Linked DNA regions of Homo sapiens. The protein of the gene in region 7 interacts with the protein of the main gene of each other region in a pairwise test. Each region holds a gene or a part of one and is shown on either strand. Other genes may lie near its edges. The genes, in order: RAB3IP, FAM135B, FAM117B, CRLF3, MT2A, CNST and ICAM5.

What was found.
Region 1: the proteins of ICAM5 (region 7) and RAB3IP interact in binary tests that used the Homo sapiens proteins (3 or more experiments, as listed by UniProt).
Region 2: the proteins of ICAM5 (region 7) and FAM135B interact in binary tests that used the Homo sapiens proteins (3 or more experiments, as listed by UniProt).
Region 3: the proteins of ICAM5 (region 7) and FAM117B interact in binary tests that used the Homo sapiens proteins (3 or more experiments, as listed by UniProt).
Region 4: the proteins of ICAM5 (region 7) and CRLF3 interact in binary tests that used the Homo sapiens proteins (3 or more experiments, as listed by UniProt).
Region 5: the proteins of ICAM5 (region 7) and MT2A interact in binary tests that used the Homo sapiens proteins (3 or more experiments, as listed by UniProt).
Region 6: the proteins of ICAM5 (region 7) and CNST interact in binary tests that used the Homo sapiens proteins (3 or more experiments, as listed by UniProt).

What each region holds. Positions count from the first base shown.
Region 1 is NC_000012.12:69,741,228-69,746,086, forward strand, and holds part of RAB3IP (rab-3A-interacting protein isoform alpha 1), read left to right. Parts: intron 1-4,859. UniProt on the Homo sapiens protein: Guanine nucleotide exchange factor (GEF) which may activate RAB8A and RAB8B. Promotes the exchange of GDP to GTP, converting inactive GDP-bound Rab proteins into their active GTP-bound form.
Region 2 is NC_000008.11:138,136,512-138,141,370, reverse strand, and holds part of FAM135B (protein FAM135B), read left to right. Parts: intron 1-21; coding exon 22-173; intron 174-2,274; coding exon 2,275-2,385; intron 2,386-4,021; coding exon of another isoform or gene 4,022-4,062; exon of another isoform or gene 4,063-4,104; intron 4,105-4,110; coding exon 4,111-4,224; intron 4,225-4,859.
Region 3 is NC_000002.12:202,724,985-202,729,843, forward strand, and holds part of FAM117B (protein FAM117B), read left to right. Parts: coding exon 1-25; intron 26-1,265; coding exon 1,266-1,379; intron 1,380-4,859.
Region 4 is NC_000017.11:30,780,825-30,784,438, reverse strand, and holds the end of CRLF3 (cytokine receptor-like factor 3), read left to right. Parts: coding exon 1-252; 3' UTR 253-1,755; downstream 1,756-3,614. UniProt on the Homo sapiens protein: May play a role in the negative regulation of cell cycle progression.
Region 5 is NC_000016.10:56,607,114-56,609,997, forward strand, and holds MT2A (metallothionein-2), read left to right. Parts: upstream 1-1,470; 5' UTR 1,471-1,542; coding exon 1,543-1,570; intron 1,571-1,878; coding exon 1,879-1,944; intron 1,945-2,149; coding exon 2,150-2,241; 3' UTR 2,242-2,384; downstream 2,385-2,884. UniProt on the Homo sapiens protein: Metallothioneins have a high content of cysteine residues that bind various heavy metals; these proteins are transcriptionally regulated by both heavy metals and glucocorticoids.
Region 6 is NC_000001.11:246,572,158-246,577,016, forward strand, and holds part of CNST (consortin), read left to right. Parts: intron 1-4,859. UniProt on the Homo sapiens protein: Required for targeting of connexins to the plasma membrane.
Region 7 is NC_000019.10:10,292,089-10,295,610, forward strand, and holds part of ICAM5 (intercellular adhesion molecule 5 precursor), read left to right. Parts: coding exon 1-234; intron 235-523; coding exon 524-778; intron 779-909; coding exon 910-1,158; intron 1,159-1,609; coding exon 1,610-1,855; intron 1,856-1,951; coding exon 1,952-2,230; intron 2,231-2,312; coding exon 2,313-2,552; intron 2,553-3,257; coding exon 3,258-3,522. UniProt on the Homo sapiens protein: ICAM proteins are ligands for the leukocyte adhesion protein LFA-1 (integrin alpha-L/beta-2).

The DNA.
Region 1 (4,859 bases), on a different chromosome or scaffold from region 7:
GGACATTCCCGGGATATAGGTGGTTTATCAAATTTTACAAGTCAGGAAATGGAGGCTTAGAAAGTTGCGATAATTTGTCTATGGTTACTTAGTTGTAGGTGGTCGTACAGCTGGCCAGTGACAGAGCCGGTATTAAAAACTGTATCCGACTGCCCAAAATGGAACGTAGTGCTTTTGTTTCTTACATTCCTGGTCTGCACCTTCTATTAAAGAGCTTTGTAACTATAAGGAGGCACACAGATGACAAGTGTTACCATTTGTATTTCTGGTTTAAAAATATCCAAGTTTTCTGAAGACGGTGATACCAGCATTGCTACTACAGTTACTTTTAAGTCTAGTGCTTATCAAGCGAAGTCCTGGTGTAAGCTTTATACTCATTTACTCTCAGAGTGAGCGAGGAGATAATACTTTATCCCTATTTTGTAGTTGAGAAAATTGAGACCCTGAGACCTTATGTAGTTTGCTCAACGTCACATAGTTAATTAAGTGACAGGTCTAGATTAGATGTCAGACAGTTTGTCTTCCATGTCTGTGCTCTTAACCACTACACTCTGTCATTTCTTCATGTATAAGTGGTAATGCTAAAGAATTGTTTGCTCATAATCACTACATTATCACTTCTTTATGTGTAGCTTATAATGCTGAAGAACTTTGTAATTTAGCTTTTATGAGATACGTAATGTTAATGTAATATGTAATTCTCATTGTGTCACCAGAGATTTTTTTAAATCAAATACTCATTGAGCATCTACTCTGCAAGTCACAGTAGGGGTTAAAGGAAACTGTTCTTAAGGAATATGGAAGGTAGGGCCTTATAATCATTCCCATATCTTTTATAAGTTCTTCAAAATGTAGAACGCACTTTACATATTTTAATGAATGTCAACTAAGACAAAGTGCTAGGATAGTTGAGTAGTGGAGAGGAAGGACAGATGGATAGTGGGTAGAGATATTTGTGCATTGAGGTAATGAGGGAAAGCTTTGAAGATATTCCAAGGGAGTACGCTTTTTCACACTAAACTTTTTTCCGATATAATTCTGATTAAGATGCAGTTCATCAAAGGATAGTAAATTGGTTACTACGCATTTGATATCCTAAAAACAAAATATCTGAGCTTTTGTAAACTGCTTTCTAGCTTGTTTCTCCTTTTTTATGCTACTATCCTTAGTTGTACCAGATGGTACTCTTTTTAAAAATTTTATGCTTTTATAATACTGAGTACCTCTTTTTTGGTATTTATGAACTTTGATATTTGTGTTGTATTTGTAATTGTTTCTAGGGCCCTAGAAACATGTTTATTGGCAAGGTGGTCTCTTCCTCTAGTCTACAAGTGCTTCGAGAGTAGGGCTTACCTCATTTTATAGCTTTAACATCGGGCCAGGTAAGTACTGTGCTGTGTTTGGTGATGGATGATCAGTTGAAGAATGTTAGGATGTTTTGAAGCTGCTCTAGCAGTAGAAATTGAAATGAACATTGAGAAATGAAGGGACAAAGGAAGGAAGAGGAAGATATTTATACAACTGGGAGCATTAACTTGCTATCTCTATTTTCCCTTCTGCTTTCCTTTTCAACTTACCACTAAATGAGGTAGTTTTATAAGCTTACATCGTACATAGTCATGGTTAGAGAAAAGTGGAAAAAGTAATCTGATTTATCTTAGAATATAGGGCAACACGAAATTAGATAACTATAGCCGTAAACTGATATTACTTAGAGGAAAAAGAATGAAAATTATTCAAATAGTTCAAGTTCATGAAAGATTTGATGCTTGTCGTTAACAGTAGGATTGTAAATATAATCATAATGGCAGTTGATGAAATTCCTCTGAGGGGTATGGATACATACACAAATAAGTATATGAATTGACAGCTTAGTATGAAGAAACTATTCAAGAATGTGAGAATGCCCTATGAGCATAAAGGAGCATATAGATGATAGCTTAGAACCACTTAAATAAGTGAATTGTAATTTGATATGCCCAGATAAAAGTAATAGTATTGAATATTTGTTTGGGAGCATCTGGTTGTCAGATAAGGATAAAGTATAAAAGAAAAACCAAAATAAGTTTGAAAAAACAATAAGCAAATTTGTATCAATTCCCTGTGGGGAAAAGAATCATATTTGAACTACATGCCTCATAAAGACTAGTTTTCCCTTTCTTTCCTTTTACCTAAGATAAATAAAGATACCTTCTGATTTGTAAGACAAACCCCTCAGTATGCTTTTGCTATTTCCCCCATTACATTTTTTTCTTTCTTAGATCTTTATAAAATCATACATTTATGTTGTGCTTTACAATGTATACATTTTTACATTGATATGCCATTTGATTTTCTCAAATGTAGGCAGGGGAGATAATATCACTACCATTATAGATGTCAAAACTGAACCTTAGAGAGATTAAATGACTTGCGTCAGTTCACACAGCTTGTCAGTGACAGAATCTGAACTAGAAGGAAGGTTTTCTGAAGTTAGTCTGTTAAAATGCTCAGGTTTTCTCAAACTTCAATTTCTCCAGTTTTGATACTCTCGCAAAGTATTTACTGTTTCATTTCTATCTTTTTCAGCAAAAATGTAGCCTGAATAACTGTCTCCACTCTTTACCGCTTTGCTATTCATTCCTTCTCTAAAGACTCTTGTTTATTTATTTAGTCAGTGCGTATTTCAGCACCTGTTGAATGTTTAGTTGGCATATATTCTTAAGAGAATATGTAAAATGAAGCTTCCATTATTGAGAAAAAGAAATTTGGAAAATGATTTTTTTAAAAAATTATACTTTTAAGTTCTGGGATACATGTGCAGAATGTGCAGGTTTGTTACATAGGTATACACGTGCCATGGTGGTTTGCTGCACCGGTCAACCCATCATCTACCTTAGGTATTTCTCCTAATGCTATCCCTCCCCTAGCCCGCCACTCCCCCACAGGCCCTGGTGTGTGATATTCCCCTCCCTGTGTCCGTGTGTTCTCATTGTTCATCTCCCACTTATGAGTGAGAACATGCGGTGTTCTGTTAATTTAAATAAATATTTAATTACAAATAAATATTTGTAATTAAATATTAGCTCATTGTATTATTACAAATAATTATTTGTAATTAAATATAATATTAGCTCATAAGTTCAGAACATTTTCTGAAAACTGTCAACATAACACACTGCAATAACTAACATCTCTACACATGTCAGGTTGTACATTGAAGTGTTGTGGAATTAGGCCGGGCATGGTGGCTCACACCTGTAGTCCCAGCACTTGGGAGGTTGAGGCAGACAGTTACTTGAGGTCAGGAGTTCGAGACAAGCCTGGTCAACATGGCAAAACCCCATCTCTACTAAAAATACAAAAAATTAGCTGGGTGTGGTGGCAGGCGCCTGTAATCCCAGCTATTCAGGAGACAGATGTTGCAGTGAGCCGAGATTGTGCCACTGCACTCCAGCCTGGGCGACAGAGCGAGACTGCATCTCAAAAAAAAAAAAAAAAAAGTATTGTGGAATTAGTGGGAATTCATTTGTGATCTATTATAATAAAAATGGGAAAATTGTGTAGCCTGATTGACCATTTGAGTAATTTTGCCCTTGGGCTATTAATTACATTTGCATTTATAAACATAGAATGCTTCTTAAAAGATAAATGTGATTTTTTTTGTCATAACTAAAATGCTAGTTTGGGAAGCCAACTTTAAAATTATTATGAAAGCTAATGAAAAAATGATTTTATATATATACTTGTTTTGTTTTTTCCTCCTTTATTATACAGTATTTGAATAAATTTTGAACTTTCCTTTTTATTTTGAGAGCACTATAAATTATGGAGAGTTTCAAATAAGGTAAGTAGACACAATAGTATAATGAACCTAAAAGTTTCCATCATGTAGCCCAGTAACTATCAACAGTGATCAGTCCTCATCCATCCACTTCTCCCACTTCTATATTATTTTGAAACAAATTGCAAGTCCTGTGTAATTTCACCTGTAGGTATTTCAGTATTTCCCAAAGATAAGAGCAGTTAACTGCAGTACTTTTACAAACTTTGTTCTTTATTTATTTTTTCATTTTAATCTACATTTCCTGCTTTTATTATTACAAATTTTCAAAAATTAACACTAATTCCTTGGTATAAAATATCTACACTTTTTAAAAAAATACACAGGAATATGGGTACTATAGTAAATTCAAGTTTCTGTTTATTTTGATTTATGTGCTGTTTTTTTTTTTCCAAGTCCTGTAAGGAGCTGAATAAGTATTAAATTCTGGCATAGTAACAAAACAGAGGAGGAAATGATAACAAAAATAATATAGGGGAAAATAATAGAACACAAAGCAATAGCAAATGCTCATTTCAATAGCAGTGCTTTAGAGAAACTTCAGTTTTGTCTTTGTGAAAGTAAGAGAAGGGTTCAGAGATTAAACATTATTATTCTGTTTGGATTGTTCACTTCTTTTTTTTTAAACTTTAAGTTCTGGGATACCATGTGCAGAACATGCAGGTTTGTTACATAGGTATACACGTGCCATGGTGGTTTACTGCACCCAGGATTGTTCACTTCTTAGAGATCCTTTGCTGTGCTTTAACCTTTATTCCCATCTCCCTACTCCCTATCCATTTCAGCTTCTAAGTGTATCTCAGATGTAGTGGAGTTAGGTGTTAGAGTCAGACACACCAGAGTTTGAATACTAGCTCTGTTACTTTTTGTGTATTTGACAAAATTAATCTCTCTCAGCCTCTTTTTTTTATATATCTGTAAAGTAGGGATAAGAACCATTTCAAATGAATGCTCTGAAGATTAACTGGAATAATTGTGTGTTTGTGAATAAATATAAATGAAGCTGTTCTGAATGTTTTCCATACGTATATATGCC
Region 2 (4,859 bases), on a different chromosome or scaffold from region 7:
ACCCCTTCTGTTTCTCCACAGCTTCATTGGCCATTCTCTTGGCAACATCATCATCCGATCGGTCCTCACACGGCCCCGGTTCCGGTATTACCTCAACAAACTCCACACGTTCCTGTCACTCTCTGGGCCTCACCTGGGAACCCTGTACAACAACAGCACCCTGGTTAGTACAGGTAAGATTCTTCTAGGACTCGTCATTCCTCAGAATTAATCTGGGGCCTCTGGGGCGTGAAACCGGGCACAGGTACTTCCACTTGGAACCCTGTGACTGTGCAGTCTTTTCCAAGCATGGCATGGAGGGAGGAGTCCTGGCCTTAGAGGTGTGGCCCTTGTGTCTGGGGGCTGAGTGAGGTGACACTAGATGTTTTCCAGGATCATTTCTGCCTTCAAATTTCTGTGAAAAAAAGGCAATGTCTCTGGGGTCCTGGTTGGAAAAGACTGACAAGACACGGTGTTGTGATGAAGAGAACAGGGACTCTGAATCAGGCCACCTGCATGACAAACCTGTGGTTAAGTCCTGACCAGGACACTTGAGGGAGACTGTGGCCTAGACATTTAATCTCTGTGCTCCTCAGTCTTCCTGTTTGTAAAATGGAGGTTATGTGTGTGTGTATCTGTGTTTGTGTATATGTATGTATACATATATGTATGTGTACAAGCATGTACACAATGTAAGTATGTATACATATATATGGTGTGTAGGTGCATATGTGCATATGTGTATCATAGAATTGTTGAAGATTACACAGGGGAAGGAAATAAGGTTGACTAACATCTATGGGAGGTTAAATATATCAGCAAGAGTCAGACAAAGAAGGACCTCGACTGACTCCAGAATATGTTAGACTTACCCTGTAGACCTTGTAGATACTACTCATGAGATTTTACTGAGGAGGTGACATGGTTTGGTGTATGGAAGCCCAAGGAGGGCATTGAGTTTTATATGTAATAACAAATCGTTTATTAAATCATGTTCTTAACAACTACCTCAGTAGTCCCTGATTGTTCAAACCCATTATGTGGCATTAGGGTCACCCCTGATAAGCTTCCTTGTCCCTGCAATCTTCCAGGCCTCTGCCACTGTCCCCTGTCCTCTCCCACACTAACGTTGTTTCCTCATGGCCTGGTCAGTTTAGTTAGTTTGCTTTTAAGTTATTTTATGGCATACTTGTGAACATGAGTTATCCGACACAATGGCACATAACAAATGGAAGTCCTTTCCTCTGCACTCTGTCTTTCCTCCCAAACCAAGGAAGCCATTCTTTGGACAGAAACAAATTTGTTAAACTACATTTTTCCCCCACAGTTATAAAGGAATCTTGCAGCATCATAAAATATTTTTTAAAAAGACAGACTTTACCAATAATATCTCCAATCTAGCATATCCAGAGTAATTTTATATATTTCATTCTACTTATCTTTGTGCACACACATTGACGTAGCAGTCAGTGTAATATATGTACATACCATAGCTTGCTTATTTCCTTGTGTTTCTATCAGATTAATTTGCTTGTTGTGGTTATGTAATCCTTACACTCATCAATGTTAGTGTTTGCCTAAGCTTAGCTAAACGCATGAGATTTTTGTTGTTGTTGTTGTTTTTTGAGAGAGAGTCTTGCTTTTGTCGCCCAGGCTGGAATGCAATGGTGCAATCTCGACTCACTGCAAGCTCTGCCTCCCAGGTTCAAGCAATTCTTCTGCCTCAGCCTCCCAAGTAGCTGGGATTACAGGTGCCTGCCACCATGCCTGGCTAATTTTTTAATAGAGTCGGGATTTCACCATTTTATCCAGGCTGGTCTCGAACTCCTGACCTCAGGTGATCCACCCGCCTCGGTCTGCCAAAGTGCTGGGATTACAGGCATGAGCCACCATGCCCAGCCAACAGATGAGTTGTGAAGTGAGACATTTATTTTAGCTTTACTGTATCCTAAATGTATCTGTAAGGATCATTTTATATTCTTTTCGCATTGAAAATTATTACCCTAGGCTTCTTTTTCGGAAGGAGATTGACTGGATTGAAGAGTGTGGGTAGTTTCTTACTCCGAAGGCTGTTGTCCTGTCATCATTTTTGCAGGATGATTTAAGTCCTTTCCACCAGTACGTGAGAGGACAAATTTACCTCTAACTTCCCAACTATTTGCTAGTATGCCTACTTCTCTCTTATTTTCAAGTTAACTAAAATTCAGTTTAACGTTCATCTCACCAAAATTCCATCCCAGTTAGTTTTTGTTTTGTTTTGTGTTTTTGATTTTTATTTTGTTTTTGTCTTCCTAGGCTTATGGCTCATGCAGAAACTGAAGAAATCCGGGTCTCTACTGCAGCTGACCTTCAGGGATAATGCTGATTTGCGCAAATGTTTCCTCTACCAACTAAGCCAAAAAACAGGTCAGTGGTTTCCCCCACAGCTGCAGTTATGAGTTTGAGCTTGGGATTCAACTCCTGAGACACAAATGAGATATAATGCTACATTGATTCACTCACAGAAGGGCCTAGTCAGGAGGCCCAGCACTCAAAGCCTCTTTGGCTCATTGGGAGGCCAACAGCTACCAGGAACTCAGCTCCTCTTGCCCATTGCCCATATGGCACGTGAGAGATTGAGCCAAGGTGTGTGTAAGATCATTTCAATAGCCAGAAGCTGTAGCTTCCACTTTGTGCCAGTTTTTCAATGTTCTCATTGCATAGGCCTAAGATCTGTGTGCCAGCTTCACCCAGGTACAGGCCCATCTACAAAAAAGGCAGATGCAACATTTTCCACTGATGTTGACTGTGCAGTGGGAGACGGGGGTCATTGTCAGGCAGGCCTGCTATGATACCTGCACCCTCTCTCTGTCATGTGGAAGTGCATAGAGGTGTTGAAGACCCTACCTGCTACATGGGAATGTCCACAGAGGACAGCAGTAATGGTGATCATTGCCGAGTGGTCCCCATGTCCAGTCGGCGAGTGGAGCAGCTGACTGATTGCCCTGCTCAGTCCCACCACACAAGCTGGCCTGGCCCAGGGTCTGTTCTTGGTCACAATCTTCCACCGTCCTGTAAACACTGACTCTGCTGATCCCTCTGTGCCTGTGAATCTGGTGTAGCCACGGGCTCATCTGTGAGCCTGGCTGAGTTCCTTTCCTACTTTCTGCCTCTGTGTGTTGAGTTGAGCTCTTAGAGCTATCTCCTGTGGAGGAGGAGGAGGGAGGCAGGGCTTGGCAGAAGAAGGTGGGACTGCAGTGTGATCACTGTAGAGTCCATCAGGGGTGCAGGAGCTGGGGTGGCCCTGGAGAGCTGTCCTGAAGGAAGGGGAGGGGCTGACCATTACACCTTTGTCTTCCTCGCCCATGTATTGGCCAGCTGTTGAAGTAGGCTGCCCCCAATGTGTGATGTCTGATGAGGGGACCCACACTTCAGTAGGGCACACATAGCTAAGAGCTGACAGCCGCCCACCCAGCAGGATCTGGGGAATGAGAAGGACAGTCTCAGTACAGATGGAGTGTCCGGGTAGTCTGCAGTGCTCAGGAAGTTCACGATGGGCTCTGAGGCCTGCAGGGATACACTGTGATGTTTAATTTGAAGGGTCCCTCTGTCTGCATTGTGGGGACAGATTGCAGGAAGGCAAGACTGGCTGCAGAGAGGTGAGTTCTGAGGCTGTTTTCCTAAAGCATGGGACGTGGTGAAGGCTGGAATTAGGAGAGGTGCTGGAGTTGAGGAGGAAGAACAAGATAGTCAGACTGACTTTTCCTTATGAACCCCTTAATATTTCTATCCCCAAAAGGCTTTTTTGGTCCCATTCTAGTTGCTTATTTCTCTGTGTCCAGAGTAGCTTTCTGTGTGTCTCCTTAGCTTTCATGGCTGATGAGAGCAGGCTTCATCTCCCCTCACAAACGCAAAGCCCCTGCTTAGTGACTTCTTTTCTCAACCTCCCATAGGCCCCCGCGATACCTCTATGCCATCTGCTGTGCATTGTTAAACCTCAGGACAGAATGTCCTTGTGTGATGACACTAGTGTGTGGTGTGTCAACATTTTTTCTCTCTATAGGACAAGTCTGGAAATTTGTGCAAATTTCCAGAGGGTGTTGAAGTTGAAACTACCTGGGTAAAAAGCACTCATCTGGCTAATTTTTACAGGGCTGCAGTATTTTAAAAACGTCGTGCTGGTTGCTTCTCCCCAAGACCGTTATGTGCCATTTCATTCAGCCAGGATTGAAATGTGTAAAACTGCCCTCAAAGACAGACACACAGGTAAGCTACATTTAATTTTTGCTCAGGGACTTTCTAATTTGAAAAGCAAAAGTAAATTCATGGAATTGACTGCCTATTGGGAACACCTGGGCTATAGGTTTAGTGCTGCATTTATCTTAGCTTAGTGATAGGACAAACATAGCTCATCTCGATGTTACTGTGCCAGATCCTTCCTTTGTGTAATAAACAGTCACATGTTTATTAGATTATGAAACTTCTGTTCAGTCCTATTGTGTGCCAGCCACTGAAATTGATGACTGGGATGTATAATTCAATGAGACAGGCCCTGCCCTCAAGGGGCACATTGTCTAGTTGGAGCCTCGACAAGTAATAGCAATGAGAGTAAAATGTGATAAGTCAAAAAATAAAATAATGCCTAAGGCATTAAGGCAGCCCAGAAGTGGAACAGGACATAGGACAGAGTCAGACGAGGATCCCTGGAGATGACAATGAGTTAGGTTTTAAAGGATAGGTAGGAATTTTCCAGACAATCAAGATGGATGTGGGCTGGCATTTGTGGTTTCCTTTGGTTAATTTGTTTAATTGTTTTTTTTTAAAAACATGTTTTTAGCTTTTAATTTTGAAACAATTTTATACTCAAAAAATGTTGCAACAACAGTACAAAAAATTCCTGC
Region 3 (4,859 bases), on a different chromosome or scaffold from region 7:
GGGCAGTACAGATCAACTTAAGGAGGTCAGAAAAATGGTTCTAAGATAGTGGGTGTGGAAATATGATCCTTTTGTTGGCTATTTCCTTGATATTATGGGCAGCAAGGATTTGTCGTTTTCCATTGATTTCTTTTTTCTTTTTGGCTTCTGAAATAACAAAAACAATTATTGTGTTGATTTAATAAAGATTTCAATAGGGATATTTATATATCACTTACCTGATTATGTATGTTTGTCTTTTTTTAGGAGAATTCATACCTGTCTATTAACATCAGATTTAAAAATTGTAACAATACAACAAATTCACATTTATTCTTTTTTTTTTTTTTTTGGGGTGTGCATGTGTGTGTGTGAGACGGAGTCTCGCTCTGTTGCCCAGGCTGGAGTGCAGTGGTGCGATCTTGGCTCACTGCAGGCTCTGCCTCCCAGGCTCAAGCAATTCTCGTGCCTCAGCCTCCCAAGTACCTGGGACTGCAGGTGTATGCCATCATGGCCAGCTAATTTTTGTATTTTCAGTAGAGATGGGGTTTCATCATGTTGTCCAGGCTGGTCTCTAACTCCTGACCTCAAGCAGTCTGCCTGCCTTGGCCTCCCAAAGTGCTGGGATTACAGGCATGAGCCACCGCACCTGGCCACATTTATTATTTTTCTATATATGGTGGTGTTTCTGAAATGCAGTACTCACTATAACCATGATGGTTATGGCTCCATGCTATGATTACCATTTTCTGTGCTGCTAATTAGTGACATTTTCATTTCACACATAATGTAGAAATGCAAAAACTCGGTCAAAGAATAAATAAGATATTCATTGGAATTGCATTCGTTATTTAAAGATGATATCTGTGAATATATTTCATGACTTGAGTTGATTTTTAAATACTGTGTAATTTTTGGAACTGTTGAAAGCTAGGTGTTCAATAAATCTAAATTGAAATAAAAATTAACTTATGGTAAAGGCAATGAGAATGATTGTTATTTTTTTAATTCTTCGTGAAAACTGTAATGTAATTTATTCTAAGTGCTGAAAACTATTTGTGTAGTACTTGGGAAGCTCGAAGGCTGAGAACAATGTTGGAACATATACACATACATGCATGTGTAGATGTGTATAAAATTATGAACAAAAAATGAGACTTTGTGATATGGTTCAAAAATTCAAAGGACTTATTAAGGGTAAGTTTTACTGGTTCTTATTAAGCAAGGATGTGTTTTTGTTTCATGTAGAAAACACTCTGGTGTACTTGCTATTTTTGCTTTCTCAGATTGCAAAATTACGCCAGCAGTTGCAGAGAAGTAAACACAGCAGTCGGCATCATCGAGATAAAGAAAGACAGTCTCCATTTCATGGCAACCATGCAGCTATTAACCAGTGTCAGGTAAGAGTACCAATACCACAAAATCCAGAAAAGGAATTTGTTGTTTTTCTGGTGATTTGTTATTTCATTGGTAATTGTTTAGGACAAAAATGCTCAAAAACATATTTGAAACAGTGATTTAAATACTGAATCACAGTCTTTATAAGAAAACAGAATATTAAGTTGACAAAATGATATTTTCCTTTAGTGACCTAAGATACGACTTCTAGGAGACATAGCTACTTATCTATTTTGGTTTACCATATTTTTGGCTTTATCAGTTCAATATTTTGGAGGCAGAATGACACAGAGAATTAAGCATTGGGTATGGAACAGGCCCTGGCTGAATAACTTATCTTTTCTAAGTCTCAGTTTCCTCATGTGAAGATGGGAATAATAATACCTGTCTCGGGCGGGGAACATCACACACCAGGGCCTGTTGTGGGCTGGGGCGATGGGAGAGGGATAGCATTAGAAGAAATACCTAATGTAAATGATGAGTTAATGGGTACAGCAAACCAAAACGGCACATGGGTATGTATGTAACAAACCTGCATGTTGTGCACATGTACCCTAGAATTTAAAGTATAATTTAAAAAAATGTAAAAAAAAAAATAGCTGTCTCATAGAAGTCTTTTGATAGAGACAAACCTTTATCTGCTTTGATTTTTTAGTAGAACCCATGAACTGCTCTTGATGGCTCATCCATCCAAAGAACACTTTTTTTTACTGAATTGAAATTGGATGAGATCTCTTGGCAAGGAGAAAGCAAGTTCATTTCAGGTCTTTTCAGGATCTTTCAAGTTCCAGAATTGAAGCTTTGGGAATGAGGAAGGCTGGATTGAATTTTCCATGTTAACAGTAAGGCAGCAGGGCCTGGAAGGTAGAGGGAAACTAGAAGACTTAGTTCTGTGACTCTCAGGTTGTTTTATAATACTGGAGTTGGCAAACTGTGGCCCGGGAGCCAAGAATGTCCCACCATGTGTTTCTGTAAATAAGGTTTTATTAGAAAACAGTCACTCTCATTTTTTATGTATTGTCTATTGCTCCTTTTTGTGCCACAAAAATATACATTTGACTCTCTATATCTTCAGGTTTTGCATTTATGGATTCAACCAACCATGGATCAAACATATTTTTGGAAAAATAGAATAGAATATGTATAAATATAAATATATTTTAAAATATAATTAAAAGTACAAATAAAAATACAGTATGACAACTATTTACATAGTATTTACATTGTATTAGGTATTATAAGTAATCTGGAGATTATTTAAAATATACAGGAGGATGTTCCTAAATCATAATGCACTTACCATGCCATTTTATATAAGGGACTTGAGTATCTGTGGATTTTGGTATTTGGAGGGGGGTCCTGTCCTGGAACCAGTCTTCTGAAATTGAGTAGTTGAAACAGAGACTGTCTGGTTCACGAAGCCTAAAATACTTACTGTTTGGCCCTTTACAGATAAGGCAGGCCAACCCCTTTTATAGTTTGGTAGTGTCTGATGTTTGTTAAATGTATAGATTGTTTGCAATGGAAAGTATGGGTAAAGGTATAGACTTTTTCAAACTGATTTTGCCCCAAAATATTAATACTCGGGTCAGATTTGATTTCACAGGTTTATAGAGATTGTTTTTTGTTTGTTTTGAGACAGGGTCTTGCTCTGTCACCCAGGCTGGAGTGCAGCAGGGTGATCACAGATTCACTATAGCCTCGACTTCCTGGGTTTATGTGATCCTCCCACCTCAGCCTGCTGAGTAGATGAGACTACATATGTGCACCACCATGCCTGGCTAATATTTTTTATTTTTTATTTTTATTTTTGTAGAGATGGGGTCTGTGTTGCCCAAGCTGGTCACTAACTCCTGGCTTTGAGTGATTCTCCCACCTTAGCCTCTCAAAGTGTTGGAATTACAGGCATGAGCCACTATGTCCAGCCAAATTTATAGTTCGATTATAATTTCCAGTAACTTTTTTCTATATTTGATATTTTAATTAAAAACATGGTTATACATTAGTATTCGTGTATATTCTGTACAAACTAGATTTATTTCTGGAGAAATAGAAATTTTAAATTGACAAAATAAGAAATGAAAAATTTGTAAAGACTAATAACTTTTGAATTTGGAATGTTAATTAAAAACCCAGTCTCACTCTCAAGAGGCTGAAGACCCAGATGATTTTACAGATGAATTTGCCAACCTTCCCCTTCCTCTCATTCATTCATAAATAAATGGTATGTGTTTCTAAAAAATAAGGCCACTTTTTACTCCCAGTCCATATTTTTACTCCAAGTAGAATAGGGATTAGGATGGAATTTTATTGAATTAAGTGGCTAGTTTTAGGACTTCAGAAGTTTCTGAAGTGATTATTTTTTAAACTTGTGTTAAAACCAACAATTTTAAAGTGGTTATTCAAATTTTCATTTTTTTCTTCTTGCAAGTTGAATTTACTTAATAAAGATTATTGGAATTTACTTGAAATTTATATTTAATTTAAAAACATTTCCTTGCAGAGAGGGTAAGGACAAGAAAATAGAGAAACTTGAAAAATAGTTCATCTAGTTTGAGTTTTGTACACTTGACACATCAAGCGTCTTAACTGTTTCTCCCATTTTATTTAGTGTTATCAGCCAACCGCAAGTCAGGCACATGTGCATCATGATAGTAATGACAGTAGTACTCATGTTTAATTGAAACTCACGCTGGCCGGGCACGGTGGCTCACGCCTGTAATCCCAGCATTTTGGAAGGCTAAGGTGGGTGGATCACCTGAGGTCAGGAGTTCGAGACTAGCCTGGCCAACATGGCGAAACCACATCTCTACTAAAAATACAAAAATTAGCGAGGCTGGCGGGTGCCTGTAACCCCAGCTACTTGAGAGGCTGAGGCAGGAGAATGGCTTGAGCCCAGGAGGCGGAGGTTGCAGTGAGCAGAGATCGTGCCACTGCACTCCAGCCTGGGTGACAGAGTGAGACTCCATCTCAAAAAAAAAAAAATTTAAAAAGAAACTCTTAGGCTGTAAACATGAAAATAATTTCTATTAAGTTATTGTTTTGGTGGGTTCTCTATCTAGTGGAGAAAAGTGCCACACGATACATGTGTACTTCTGAGGCCATTCATCAGCCCATACAATATTTATTAATCATTTTGGCCTGTGACCGTAGTACTCATTAGGGGATGTGGTGATAAAAGAAATATTGTCTGTCCTTACCAGTTCTCATATTAAAGAGATATGAGTAAACAGTTAATTATAACACTGTATAATGAATGTGTTGATAGGGAGAATTCAGAATGCAACAGAAGATGTGTTTATTTGGAAAAGGATGGAGTCATCTAGAAAGACGTCTCAGAGAAAATGGTGTCTAGCTGATCCTTGAAAGATAAGTATAAGGTGGAAAAAGTCATGTCCCCAGATAGGAGTAGTGGTAAGAGATTAGGCAGGATAGAGAGGTAAATAGCAGCCAAACCTGAAAGTCTCCATGTTCACTTATTA
Region 4 (3,614 bases), on a different chromosome or scaffold from region 7:
GTTTTTGTCAATGGAAAAGAAATGACAAATCAGTTACCCGCAGTTACTTCTGGGTCCACTGTCACGTTTGACATTGAAGCCGTGACTCTAGGAACCACCAGTAATAATGAAGGTGGACACTTCAAGCTTCGAGTAACTATAAGTTCAAATAATAGAGAAGTGGTTTTTGACTGGTTACTTGATCAGTCTTGTGGTTCTCTTTACTTTGGATGCTCATTTTTCTATCCTGGATGGAAAGTGTTAGTGTTTTAGATGTTTGGGTGCTTGGCTTTGGTTTTCAGGGTCTAACGTAGCTGTCCTCAGCCCAGCGTAGTTGTAATTGCTTTAAAAAAAAAGTTGAATTCATCTCTAACTTAGGCCATTGGAAAGTGTTTACTGGATTCATTTTGTAATATTTTAGCAAAAAGAGACTTCAATGTTGTGGACAAAATCATACAATTCAGTCAATTTTATTTTTAGCATACTGTTAAATATCACATCACAATAAAAATCAAATTGGCATTAAAAGTATAGAAGATATAGGAAGTTCTATACCCTTCCACTGTACTTCTCAAAGTTGGTTATTAGACCAGGAAAACTTAATGTAATATTATTTTTAAAATCATCTTAAAGGATCCAAGTCCATGTAACTCTTTAGAACAAGAGGAATAGGTCAGATAGAAGAAGCTGTGTAATGTATTAATACATCCGTTCATGTGCTGTCCACATGAATGTGTTGACTGTGCTCTCCATGTTCAGGTATTTGTAAGCAGTGTTGACTTTTATCCCCTCTTCAGTAATCTTTAAGTCCCCAAAACATTATAACTTTTTCTTTTTTTGTTGAGACGGAGTCTCACTCTTGTCACTCAGGCTGGAGTGCAGTGGTGTGATCTCAGTTCACTGCAACCTCTGCCTCCCACGTTCAAGCGATCCTCCTGCCTCAGGCTCCTGAGTAGCTGGGATTACAGGCGTCGGCCACCACACCTGGCTAATTTTTGTATTTTTAGTAGAGACAGGGTTTCACCATGTTGGCCAGGCTGGTCTTGAACTCCTGACCTCAGGTGTTCCACCCACCTCAGCCTTCCAAAGTGCTAGGATTACAGGTGTGAGCCACTGCAGTGGACCAATTTTTGTATTTTTTTAAATGCTTGACCAAGTGTCTAAAATAGGCAAGTAGTACCTTTTGTTCTTTCATTGCAATTTGATACAGTATAGGCTACAGTATTTTTACAGGGTAAAACTAGTTATGGCAGTAGTATGCACAGCAGTGTTAGCCATTTCATATGTATGTAATATGCACGTGTGTATCCAATCTGCCTGTGACATGCATTTTACTCTTTGCAGAGAATGAGCTGCAGTCCAGTTTAATGTCAGTTTAATAAGTGGTCTCTTTTTAGCAGAGCAAAAAAATATAGCGTAAATACTTATTTTTTTTAAAAACTTACTTAAATTTGTGTGTAAAATATTTATTTGAAGGACTTTAATATGTAAAAATAATTGTCTTCTATGCCACCCTACAGATTTTATTTTAATGTGAATTATTTTTTTCATTTCATTTTTACCAGTATAGTAAAAAAGTAGAAAAGCAAGTATGATATTTTTGTAAGATAATTTATTTGGGGATTCATGTTCCCTGTTAGACAATCATGACCTTTTCTACTTGTCTTTTTATATATAAGTAGTAGATTTCCACTTGTTTAGGGATTAAGAAGATGTTCTAGAATGTAGATACCTTGTCCAGCCATAGGAATCAAAATAAAAAACTAAAAAAGTTCAGTGTGTGTACTTTTTTCTTCTGTGAGATTTGGTGAATCCAGTTTTAACCTACTTTTCATTTGAAGGGAAAACAGGCTTCTTGTGGCTCCAGGCATTTTAGTAAGATATCACTGTGACTTGTGAAAGGGTATGTGTACCTTCTTGTACTTTCTTTTAAAAACTTTTTTAAAAATATTTTTTGTAGAGAATGAGGGTCTTGCTGTGTTGTCCAGACTGGTCTCAAACTCCTGGCCTCAAGCAGTCCTCCCCAGCCTTGGCCTTCCAAAGTGCTGGGATTATAGGCATGAGTGACCACACCCAGCTGGTTACTTGTACTTTCCTATATTCTGTGTCTGATACTGAGCATCTTGCCTGACACAATGTGTGCAGAATGAATGGTGGATCGAATGAGTCGTTTTCTCCAGATATCTTCATCTCATTCCTTTAATTCATCAAATATTTGTTGAATGTATTTATTTCTTAGCCTCTCTAGGGAAATGACATCTTAATTTATACCTATAGAATCTGCCTGTTCACAGGAGTGCCTTAAACCTAATTTGAGACAGGAGTGGTAATATTTGGAACTCTGAAACTAATTTTTTTTGAGACAGAATCTCACTTTGTTACCCAGGCTGGAGTGCAGTGGTGCAATCTTGGCTCACTGCAACCTCTGTCTCCTGGGTTAAACGGATTTCCCTGCCTCAGTCTCCCAAGTAGCTGGGATTACAGGTGTGCACCACCACACCTGGCTAATTTTTATACTTTTAGTGGAGATGGGGTTTTGCCATGTTGGCCAGGCTGATCTTGAACTCCTGGCCTCAAGTGATCCTCCCACCTTGGCCTCCCAAAGTGCTGGGATTACAGCCGTGAGCCACTGTGTCTGTCCTTGAAACTAATTTAAATACTGACTTTTTTTCTTGAACTGTGAAGATTTTTTTTAAAAAAATGAACTCATTAGCTGGGCGTGATGGCTCACGCCTGTAATCCCAGCACTTTGGGAAGCCAAGGCAGGTGGATCACCTGAGATCAGGAGTTTTGAGACCAGCCTGGCCAACATGGTGAAACCCCGTCTCAACTAAAAATGCAAAAATTAGCTGGGCATGGTGGTAGATGCCTATAATCCCAGCTACACAGGAAGCTGAGGCAGGAGAATCACTTGAACCCTCCGGGAGGTAGAGGTTACAGTGAGCTGAGATCACATGATTACAGTCCAGCCTGGGCAACAAAAGCAAAACTTTGTCTCAAAAAAAAAAAAAAAAAAAAAAAAAAAAATCATTCTGTTCAAGTAAGTAAGGGAACCTAGTACTCCAAACCTATGTGCTAGGAGGGAAGAGTTTGTGTGATGATATGATCACAAGAATTGATTTTTTGGCTGGGCATGGTGGCTTATGCCTAGCCATTTTTTATTCACTTAAAAAAAAAATTTGGCTGGGTGTGGTGGCTCACACCTGTAATCCCAGCACTTTGGGAGGCCTAGGCTGGTGGATCACCTGAAGTCGGGAGTTCGAGACCAGGCTGACCAATATGGTGAAACCCTGTCTCTACTAAAATTACAAAAATTAGCTGGATGTGGTGGCGCACGCTGGTAGTCCCAGCCACATGGGAGGCTGAGGCAGGAGAATTGCTTGAACTCGGGGGGTGGAGGCTGCAGTCAGCCAAGATCTTGGCACTGCACTCCAGCCAGGACAACAGAGCAAGACTCTGTCTCAAAAAAAAAAAAAAAAAAAAAAAAAATTTAGCCAGGTGTTGTGGTGCCCACCAGTAGTTCCAAAGCTACTCAGGAGACTGAGGTGGGAGAATTGCTTGAGCCTGGGAATTCGAGGTTGCAGTGAGCCTAGGCAACATTGGTAGACCCCATCTCTTAATAAATAAACACAAAC
Region 5 (2,884 bases), on a different chromosome or scaffold from region 7:
CAGTGGTCAGGGGTTGGTGAGGAGGGGCAGAGACACCAATCCAAGAGTCCCCGCAGTTTATACATACCACAGGCACGGAAAGCGCCAGGAGGGGAAAGAACAGGATGTTTACCAGCACCTTCCACAGGCAGCCACGGTCATGGGGGTCAGGACAGGGTCCCCAGAGGAAGTGACGATTCGGCTGAGCTAGAAAGACATTTCCACAGGAACTTACAGTAAGGGCTGCAAGGACAGCCTGTCCTCCCCCGCCCACCACCTCACTAAACTTTCACTGTGGCAATCGGCATTCCCTAAGCCTGCCAGGAAGCTTCCAGTAACCACTTCCTGACTCCTAGCATGACACACTTCGGGCCTTCCAAGGTTGACGATCTAAGGCCCTTACACAGCGCCAGACACGCGCAGGCAGGGAGGCAGGATGTGCCTCTCCAGACAGGAATGTGGACGCCACCTGGGCTCTTCCCCTCAGCCTCCACAGGGGAAGAATATTCTTGTGGGGTTTTTCCCTTCCAAATGTCTCAGGGCGATTCCAGTGTTCCCGCTAGTTCCTCCCTCCCAGGCTAGAACACAAATCCTTCCCACTCCCTGCCTGGCAAACACCTTCTGACCCTCAGGCCCAAGGCAATGGCCCACCTCCTCCCAGGCTGGATGGGGTCTCCTCCTCTCTGTTCCCCCAGCCCCTGAGCTTCCTGAGGACCAAGCTTGTGGCTTCTTCTCCTTACTCTTCCTCCTTGGTGTCTCTATGTTAGAGGGCCGTTAGCATCTGCTGGGGCCTGGTCGCATTCACCCTGCTCTGCCACTCACTGGCTGTGTGACTCTGGACAAATTAACTTCTCTGGACCTGCAGTTTCTCCTCTCTACAATGAGAATACTGGAGAGTCCTTATCTTATGGGTTGCTACAGAATTAAGTGACATCTCACACACAACACACTTCCTACAGTCCCTGTTACACGCTAAAAGTACTCAACATGCAACGGATACGTCATCAGTAACCACCCCACGGGTTTACTGTGATGCTGCACAATTATTAAGCCTTGGCTGCTACAGAGTTGTAACCTGTCTGCACTTCCAACCGGTTTGGGAATGCAAGCAGCATTCCCAAGTCCCGCTTTCACCCGCGCGCTAACGGCTCAGGTTCGAGTACAGGACAGGAGGGAGGGGAGCTGTGCACACGGCGGAGGCGCACGGCGTGGGCACCCAGCACCCGGTACACTGTGTCCTCCCGCTGCACCCAGCCCCTTCCGCGCCGAGGCGTCCCCGAGGCGCAAGTGGGCCGCCTTCAGGGAACTGACCGCCCGCGGCCCGTGTGCAGAGCCGGGTGCGCCCGGCCCAGTGCGCGCGGCCGGGTGTTTCGCCTGGAGCCGCAAGTGACTCAGCGCGGGGCGTGTGCAGGCAGCGCCCGGCCGGGGCGGGGCTTTTGCACTCGTCCCGGCTCTTTCTAGCTATAAACACTGCTTGCCGCGCTGCACTCCACCACGCCTCCTCCAAGTCCCAGCGAACCCGCGTGCAACCTGTCCCGACTCTAGCCGCCTCTTCAGCTCGCCATGGATCCCAACTGCTCCTGCGCCGCCGGTAAGAGGCTGGGGATGCCCAGTGTAGACTGTAGCGCTAGAGAAGCAATTTCTGACCCCTCTTTCTTTCTCTGGTCACTCAATTTCAGGACAGGAGTTGCTCCTTCCCAAAGAGTTTTGGGGTATCTTTCTCTCCATTCTAGGTTATTCGGAGCCCCCTTTTTACCGTTAAGGAGATCTGAGTTAATGGCTTGCTCAAGTTCCCAGGAATCGGTTGTGGACTGAGGAACTCGGCCCCGGGCTCTTAGTACGCCGTCCCTTGTTCAGGTATCCAGGGACGGTTCTCACCTCTGTCTTTTCTCCTTGCAGGTGACTCCTGCACCTGCGCCGGCTCCTGCAAATGCAAAGAGTGCAAATGCACCTCCTGCAAGAAAAGTAAGTGGGATCCTCTCTTTCCTCTACCCCTTCCCTGTCCTCCAGCCTGTCCCCTCTCCACCATCCTCAGGGGAATTAAAGCAGTCTGGGGATGCCCCATTGCGCGGAAATTGTTGCCTCCTCAGTGATCCTTATCAGGGAGAGCAGGAATCCTTATTCCCGGTGTCGCTAGTACTCATCTCTGCCGCCTCCTGTCTGCCCCCAGGCTGCTGCTCCTGCTGCCCTGTGGGCTGTGCCAAGTGTGCCCAGGGCTGCATCTGCAAAGGGGCGTCGGACAAGTGCAGCTGCTGCGCCTGATGCTGGGACAGCCCCGCTCCCAGATGTAAAGAACGCGACTTCCACAAACCTGGATTTTTTATGTACAACCCTGACCGTGACCGTTTGCTATATTCCTTTTTCTATGAAATAATGTGAATGATAATAAAACAGCTTTGACTTGATTCTGTCTCTGGTTTCCTTTATATGCCTTAAAAATAACGGACTGGGGTGAGGGATTGAACTGGGAGGGCAGAGACCTGGGCTGTGGATGGAAATGTGAGCCGTTAAGAAAGAGTGCATTCTGGCAAGCCAGGCTACTGCACTGAGCTTCAGCTTCTGTAAAACTGAATGGCGCTGTGCCAGATCATATGGGAGCAGGAGGGACACATACATGATCACTTTCAGTTTCACGTCAAATGTGGCACAGAAACTTCTCCATTCCTCACTTTTACTTTCAATTTCCCTGCCCAACTTCAGTTCTTCGTGGGATTTTAGACTTGAAAGTGACTACAGAGGGTGAAATCCAACTCCCCAGTGGCTGGAATCTGACATCCGGTTTCCCAAACTCCCTGTGGGGAATGACCAGTTTTGTTTTGTTTTGTTTTGTTCTCCATTAGTCACAGACCTAAACTCTGGTAAAATAAGGAGTTAATAAGAAAATGAAAGTTTAAAAGACACAAAA
Region 6 (4,859 bases), on a different chromosome or scaffold from region 7:
GGAGGTCAAGGCTGCAGTGAAGCATGACTGCACCACTGTGCTCTGCACTCCAGCCTGGGTGACAGAGTAAGACCCTGTCTCAAAAATACATACATAAATGAATTAAATACTTTTTTATATTATAGATTTTGAAATAAGTTATTAAAAAATTTGGGAACTTTATAAGATCAAATGCTGCTGTCCTTGAGTATTTGATAGTATACTGCTTATATTTTGATTTTTTGTATGCATTGTCCTTGTTCATTATTTTTCTCTTCTGCAGCTTTTATTCCCAGTATACAACTAAATCTTAAAAATAATTTTTAGATGAACTGAAAAACATTGCCTAAGATTTTTCAATAAGGATTTTTGTGAAAATGTGTGTGGTTTGTTATTTAGAGATGAGATCTCACTGTTTTGCCCAGGCTAGTCCTGAACTCCTGGGCTCAAGTGATCCTCCTGCCTTGACTTCCCAAAATACTGGGATTATAGACGTGAGCCACCACTCCCAGCCAAATGTATGTTTTATTTATTGAATAATAAATAGTGGAGTTATTTATTTATGTGTGTGATATGTGGTTTTTTTAATTATTAATTTTTTAGAAAAATAGAAGCAGGGTTTCGCCATGTTGCCTAGGGTGGTCTTGAACTCCTGAGCTCGAGCAGAGTGCCTACTTCAGCCTCTCAAAGTGCTGGGATTACAGGTGTGAGTCACTGCACCAGGCCTGAGTTATTTGTTTTTACCTCATGAAACAACAACTAACATTTTAGATTTTTTTTTCCACTTGTGAAGCATGAAAAAGTTTACTTAAATTGGATCTTACAAGGATTCATGTAACCAACAGGATTTCCTCCCTCAGCGTCAACTCACATGAAAAGAGGGGTGGACGTTTGTGCAAATTATACTGGTTATGATATTGTGAAATGTAGTTTCCTGGAAAAGTCATTATTGATACCCATTTTTGGCATCTTAATTCAAATTCAGCCATCAGGCTTTATTTTAAATGATTTACACAGCAATCTCTAGATTCTTCTTGCTACAAGTATTTTAAAAATTTTGTTGTGGAGTTCTTCGGCATGCCAGTTAGAGTTATACCTGTAGCATTGGATAAGCACTGTAAAGAGCCAAAATTAGAGGTAATACCCTTGCTCTTCCCTACTTTAATCATGTAATATAGGTCTTGTGACTTGGAAGAAGATTGTCTTATTACCATTACATTTGAACTTTTGTTTTAAAATTAATCTGTTAGATCATATATTCACCAAAGCTCATCTTTTCACTAGCCAGAGAAAGCTGTATTTCAAAATAACCTAAAGTAAAATAGTATTTAATTCAAGAAGTTAGTTTTTATTATATCAGGTGGCCTCTTGGTTGGTTATAGTTTCGTGCATTCTGATGCCTGCGGGCTTTTTATCCTTCCTGTCTCCACTGCATAGCTGGGGAAAACCTAGGGATTGCCCGGTGAATGCCAACAGAGCTTTAACCTGTGTGTCCATGGCTTGCCTTCCCTGAAGCCTCAAAGAGAACAGCTGCGAGTGCAAAAACCTTATGAGCAAAATTTCTGCTCCAGGAACACTTATCTGGGCTGAGGAAACATATTCTAAGAATATCTGTTTTGTAACTAAAGCTTCCATGTACTTGTGTAACGCTTTGTGTAAAACCACGTACTTTGTATAGCCTTTGCTGGAGAGTTTCCATTTTCCTCCAGCTCTTCAGTGTAAGTGAAAAAATGTGCCCAGAATGTCTCTATAGATTATTCTGCCTTCCCTCACCTTTTAGTTTTTTCCATGGAAAGCTGACAGGTCAGAATAGGCATATTTTATTAGAAACTCGAAGTGGTGGGGGGTAGAAGTACACATCTTTGCCTCTTTTTTCCTTCTTGATTACAGAAGTAATAATGCTCCAAAGATGTTTTTTAATAAAACTGAGTCTCGCTCTGTTGCCCAGGCTGGAGTGCAGTGGCGTGATCTCAGCTCACTGCAAGCTCCACTACTCCTGGGTTCACGCCATTCTCCCGCCTCAGCCTCCGGAGTGGCTGGGACTACAGGCACCCGCCACCGCGCCCGGCTAATTTTTTGTATTTTTATTAGAGACGGGATTTCACCGTGTTAGCCAGGATGGTCTCGATCTCCTTACCTTGTGATCCGCCCGCCTCGGCCTCCCAAAGTGTTGGGATTACAGGCGTGAGCCACCGCTCCCAGCCGCTCCAAAGATTTTTTAAAAAGATAAATAAATTTTAACTTGAGGAAAACATGGTTATTCAAAAATTCGTGTTTTTTCTTTTTCTTTAAAAAAAATTTTTTTTAGAGACAGCTTGTCGCACTATCACCCAGGTTGCCATGCAGTGGCAAGATTATAGCTCCGTGCAGCCTCAAACTCCTGGACTCAAGCAATCCTCCCACTTCAGCCTCCCTAGTAGCTGGGACTGCAGGTATGCAGTCTAATTTTTTTTTTTTAACTTTTTGCAGAGATAGGGCCTCCCTGTGTTGCCCCAGCTGGTCTAGAACTCCTGGCCTCCTCCAGGAGCGATCCTCCAGCCTTGGCCTCCCAAAGCACAATACGTGTATTTTTCAGAGGGAATTCTCAACTTTCATCAGATTTTTCAAGGAATATGTTACTCAAAAAAGGACAACAACCACAGCATCAGTTTGACTTGGTTGGTTATTGCATGTCCTTCCTAAATCTCTCTTATAAGCAGCTATGGCTTTATAAGGATTCCTATGTAAAAGCATCATTTTTAGTAGTATTTTATTTAAAACAAAAATAATTTAATAGATTATGAAGGAAAGTCATAGTGAGTCAAAGAACAAATCTGAACAAATCTTCCTCAAGTATTTTATTTATTTATTTATTTATTTATTTATTTATTTATTTTTGAGACAGAGTCTCACTCTGTTGCCCAGGCTGGAGTGCAGTGGCACGATCTTGGCTCACTGCAGCCTCCACCTCCCGGGTTCAAGTGATTCTCGCCTCAGCCTCCCGAGTAGCTGGGATTACAGGCACCCGCCGCCAAGCCTGGCTAATTTTTGTATTTTCAGTAGAGACGGGGTTTCATCATGTTGGCCAGGCTGGTCTTGAACTCCTGACCTCCTGACCTTTTGTCAAGTGTTCAGACAAAAACGTGCACAAATGTTTATAACAGCATTATTCACAGGAGTCAAAAAGTAGAAACAGCCCAAATGTCCATCAACTGATGAATAGATAAATAAAAGGTGGTATATCTGTACAGTGGAAGATTCTTTGGCAATAAAAAGAAATGAAGTATCAGTATATAGTACAACATGGATACCCCTTGAAAACATGCTGAGTGAAAGAAGCTAATTGCAATAGACCGCATATTGTATAATTCCATTTACGTGAAATGTCCAGAATATGTAAATCTATAGAGACAGAAAGTACATGAGTGGTTTGAGTGATTGCCTGGGGCTGTGGTGGGGGTGCAGGAGAATGGGAAATCACTGCTAGTGGGTATGTAGGGCAGGGGGGATCTTTTCGGGGTGATAAGATGTTCTAGAATTGATTGTGTACAATTTGTGAATACTAAAAGCTATTGAATTGTGCATTTTAAGTGGGTGAATTGTATGGTATATGAATTATATGTCGATAAAGGTGTCATGAAACTCAACTAGAAAAAATACAAGTTTATCATAGAAAATATGTAAAATACAGAGAAGTGGAAGAGGAAAAAAGTAATTAGCATTTTTAAAAATTCCCTATTTTTATTTCAATGATAAAAAATAATATAAGCTTATTCAAGAACAATACTGACACTTTAAAACAACATTCTCATATAAGATTTCAGTGCTCTCTGGGCGCGGTGGCTCGCGCCTGTAACGCCTGTAATCCCAGCACTTTGGGAGGCCGAGGCGAGCAGATCACTTGAGGTCAGGAATTCAAGACCAGCCTGGCCAACATGGTGAAACCGTGTCCCTACTAAAAATGCAAAAATTAGCCAGGCATGGTGGCGGGCGCCTGTAATCCCAGATACTCTGGAGGCTGAGGCAGGAGAATTGGTTGAACCCGGGAGGTGGAGCTTGCAGTGAGCCGAAATGGCGCCATTGCACTCCAGCCTGGGCGACAGAGCCAGACTCCGTCTCAAAAAAAAAAAAAAAAAAAGAAACAAAGATTTCTCAGTAATTGGTGGTGGGAGAGTTGGATCCTCACGTGCCTATGATAACCGTGCAGTCACAGTGTATACCGTATTCCACTAGTGAACAAAACTTTAATTTTTACAGAGCAGCATCGTGTTCAGTGACTATTATTTTAACTTTATTGATTTTTTTTGCATGTCATAATTCGTAAATTTGTTTTGGTTTAATTGTGTTAGAGTTAGAAGCACATAAAAATTATGTTTTTACATCCTTTTTTTTTTTTCTGAGATGGAGTCTCACTCTGTCACCCAGGCTGGAGTGCAGTGGTATGATCTCCACTCACTGGAACCTCTGCCTCCCAGGTTCAAGTGACTCTCCTGCCTCAGCCTCTTTAGTAGCTGGGACCGCAGGCATGTTACCACGCGCGGCACATTTTTGTATTTTTAATAGAGACGGGATTTTTCCATATTGGCCAGGTTGGTCTCTAACTCCTGACCTCAGGTGATCCACCCCCCTCAGCCTTCCAAAGTGCTGGGGTTACAGGCGTGAGCCACCGCACCCAGCCACAAATTATATTTCTTAATTCTTTTTATCCTATTACCCCTTCCCTTGGCTACCACCCCCTACCCTCCACCCACATCCACAGTGCTTTAAGATAAAGGAGATTAATTTCGCCTGTAGGAATCCATGGGAACTTGGCCTTCAGACTTCAGGCAAGCACCAGAGTGGAAACATTTGGAAGTCTCATTCTAACATGTTTTTACCTTAAAATTTTTTAAAAATTGGAT
Region 7 (3,522 bases):
CGGAAAGGCCCGTGAGCTGCACTCTGGACGGACTGTTTCCAGCCTCAGAGGCCAGGGTCTACCTCGCACTGGGGGACCAGAATCTGAGTCCTGATGTCACCCTCGAAGGGGACGCATTCGTGGCCACTGCCACAGCCACAGCTAGCGCAGAGCAGGAGGGTGCCAGGCAGCTGGTCTGCAACGTCACCCTGGGGGGCGAAAACCGGGAGACCCGGGAGAACGTGACCATCTACAGTAAGGAAGGAGGCGGGGTCTCCGCGGCTCCGAGGTGGGACCAGAGGAATGCGAAGGCGGGGCGAAGAGTGGGCGGGACCTCAGTACCGGAACAGGCGTGGCCCGAGGGGCGGGGCAGGTGGGGGCGGAGACGTAATCGCTGGGGAGGAGGAGCCTGTACAGCCTGAGAGGCGGGGCGCCGTACCCTAGTTCGTTCTCAGCACCCCGAGGATTCGGGCAGATAAGGGGCGGGCCTTGACCGGAGGGAGGGGTATGGTCAGTATACTACGACCAAATGCTCCGCCCCCAGGCTTCCCGGCACCACTCCTGACCCTGAGCGAACCCAGCGTCTCCGAGGGGCAGATGGTGACAGTAACCTGCGCAGCTGGGGCCCAAGCTCTGGTCACACTGGAGGGAGTTCCAGCCGCGGTCCCGGGGCAGCCCGCCCAGCTTCAGCTAAATGCCACCGAGAACGACGACAGACGCAGCTTCTTCTGCGACGCCACCCTCGATGTGGACGGGGAGACCCTGATCAAGAACAGGAGCGCAGAGCTTCGTGTCCTATGTGAGTTGGTGATAACCCCTCGCCCCCCACCTTCTGGTGACTTCCAAGGACCCGCCTGCTCCCTCACCGTGTCGTGGAGGCGGAGCCATTTCTTACGTCTAAGCCTCTGTAACCCCACGCCCTGCCCGCAGACGCTCCCCGGCTAGACGATTCGGACTGCCCCAGGAGTTGGACGTGGCCCGAGGGCCCAGAGCAGACGCTGCGCTGCGAGGCCCGCGGGAACCCAGAACCCTCAGTGCACTGTGCGCGCTCCGACGGCGGGGCCGTGCTGGCTCTGGGCCTGCTGGGTCCAGTCACTCGGGCGCTCTCAGGCACTTACCGCTGCAAGGCGGCCAATGATCAAGGCGAGGCGGTCAAGGACGTAACGCTAACGGTGGAGTGTGAGTGGGGGTGCGCAGGGTGCATTTCTATCTGGTTCAAGGTCTGGAGGGTGGCCAGCCTCCAGGGAAGAGTAGGAGTAGGGTATGAGGTGTCCCTTTGGGTGAGGTTTTGGGAAAGGGAAGAGGCTGGTTAGTGGGGTTGGAGAAAGATCTTGGAGGATGGAAGGGACCGGGTGGGCGTGCCCCTAGCCTAGGGCGTGGTATTTGGGCGGAGTCGTGGAAAGGCGGGCAGTCCAGAGTGTTTAAGTTTTTAGACGAAAAAGGCGCCACTGGTGGCTCAGGAAGCTCCCAGACAGAGTGCATGCCTCGACTAGCGTGACACCTCCTTGGATCGGCGTCCAAGGGTTATGCAGGGACAACACTTCGTGGAAGCCTTGCCGCGCCAAGGAGGGTCTAGGGACGTCAGATTTGCCCCCAAACCCCAAAGCCAACAATACACTCCCTCCTCCAGACGCACCAGCGCTGGACAGCGTGGGCTGCCCAGAACGCATTACTTGGCTGGAGGGAACAGAAGCCTCGCTGAGCTGTGTGGCGCACGGGGTACCGCCGCCTGATGTGATCTGCGTGCGCTCTGGAGAACTCGGGGCCGTCATCGAGGGGCTGTTGCGTGTGGCCCGGGAGCATGCGGGCACTTACCGCTGCGAAGCCACCAACCCTCGGGGCTCTGCGGCCAAAAATGTGGCCGTCACGGTGGAATGTGAGTAGGGGCACCGCGGAGTTAGGCAGGATCTGTGGGACAACCCCGGCTGGACTTCCTGGCCCCCGTGTGAGCCCCTGCAATCCTGTTTCCCAGATGGCCCCAGGTTTGAGGAGCCGAGCTGCCCCAGCAATTGGACATGGGTGGAAGGATCTGGGCGCCTGTTTTCCTGTGAGGTCGATGGGAAGCCACAGCCAAGCGTGAAGTGCGTGGGCTCCGGGGGCGCCACTGAGGGGGTGCTGCTGCCGCTGGCACCCCCAGACCCTAGTCCCAGAGCTCCCAGAATCCCTAGAGTCCTGGCACCCGGTATCTACGTCTGCAACGCCACCAACCGCCACGGCTCCGTGGCCAAAACAGTCGTCGTGAGCGCGGAGTGTGAGCGAGGCCCAGGCGGGTAGGGAGCAGGGGTGCCCCACGGTCCAGGCACTCCCTGACATCCCCCATGGCTGCTTTGCAGCGCCACCGGAGATGGATGAATCTACCTGCCCAAGTCACCAGACGTGGCTGGAAGGGGCTGAGGCTTCCGCGCTGGCCTGCGCCGCCCGGGGTCGCCCTTCCCCAGGAGTGCGCTGCTCTCGGGAAGGCATCCCATGGCCTGAGCAGCAGCGCGTGTCCCGAGAGGACGCGGGCACTTACCACTGTGTGGCCACCAATGCGCATGGCACGGACTCCCGGACCGTCACTGTGGGCGTGGAATGTGAGTGGGGGCAGCACCGGATGGAGGGGACACGGTCCTCGGAAGAATGACTCGCAGCGGTGGGAGCATTCAAGGGCACCTCTCCCAATCCCATTCTCGGGGACAGGGAATTCCAGCCTAAACCAGGGGGTAATGAAAATTCTAGCCAGGCGCAGTGGCTCAGGTCTGTAATCCCAACACTTTGGAAGGTTGAGGCGGATGAATCACTTGAGGCCAGGAGTTCGAGACCAGCCCGGCCAACATGGCGAAAACCCGTCTCTACAAAAATTAGCCGGTCGTGGTGGTGGGCGCCTGTGGTCCCAGCTACTTGGGAGGCTGAGGCAGGAGAATCGCTTGAGCCTGGGAGGCAGAGGTTGCAGGGAGCCGAGATCCCGCCACTGCACTCCAGCCTGGGCAACAGAGTGAGACTCTTTCTTAGAAAAACAGAAAAAGAAAATTATAGGGAATAGGAGCACGGCCCTCCTCAAATCCTGGATTAGAACACTGACCTGGGCTTCACCTCCTTCCATTCGGTGAAGAAGGGCGAGGAATTTTAGCCGCAACAGCAGCCTGATTGTCGGGGAAGGAGGCTCTGATAGGAGGCAGGATCCTCTTCTGCCCATCAGAGGCGCGGTGGTCTCCCATCGATCGTTGTGGGCCGGAGCAGGGCATTTGATCAGTGGCTGGGCCGGCGCTAAGCCCCACTTCACCTTCTGTGCCCTTCAGACCGGCCAGTGGTGGCCGAACTTGCTGCCTCGCCCCCTGGAGGCGTGCGCCCAGGAGGAAACTTCACGTTGACCTGCCGCGCGGAGGCCTGGCCTCCAGCCCAGATCAGCTGGCGCGCGCCCCCGGGGGCCCTCAACATCGGCCTGTCGAGCAACAACAGCACACTGAGCGTGGCAGGCGCCATGGGAAGCCACGGCGGCGAGTACGAGTGCGCAGCCACCAACGCGCACGGGCGCCACGCGCGGCGCATCACGGTGCGCGTGGC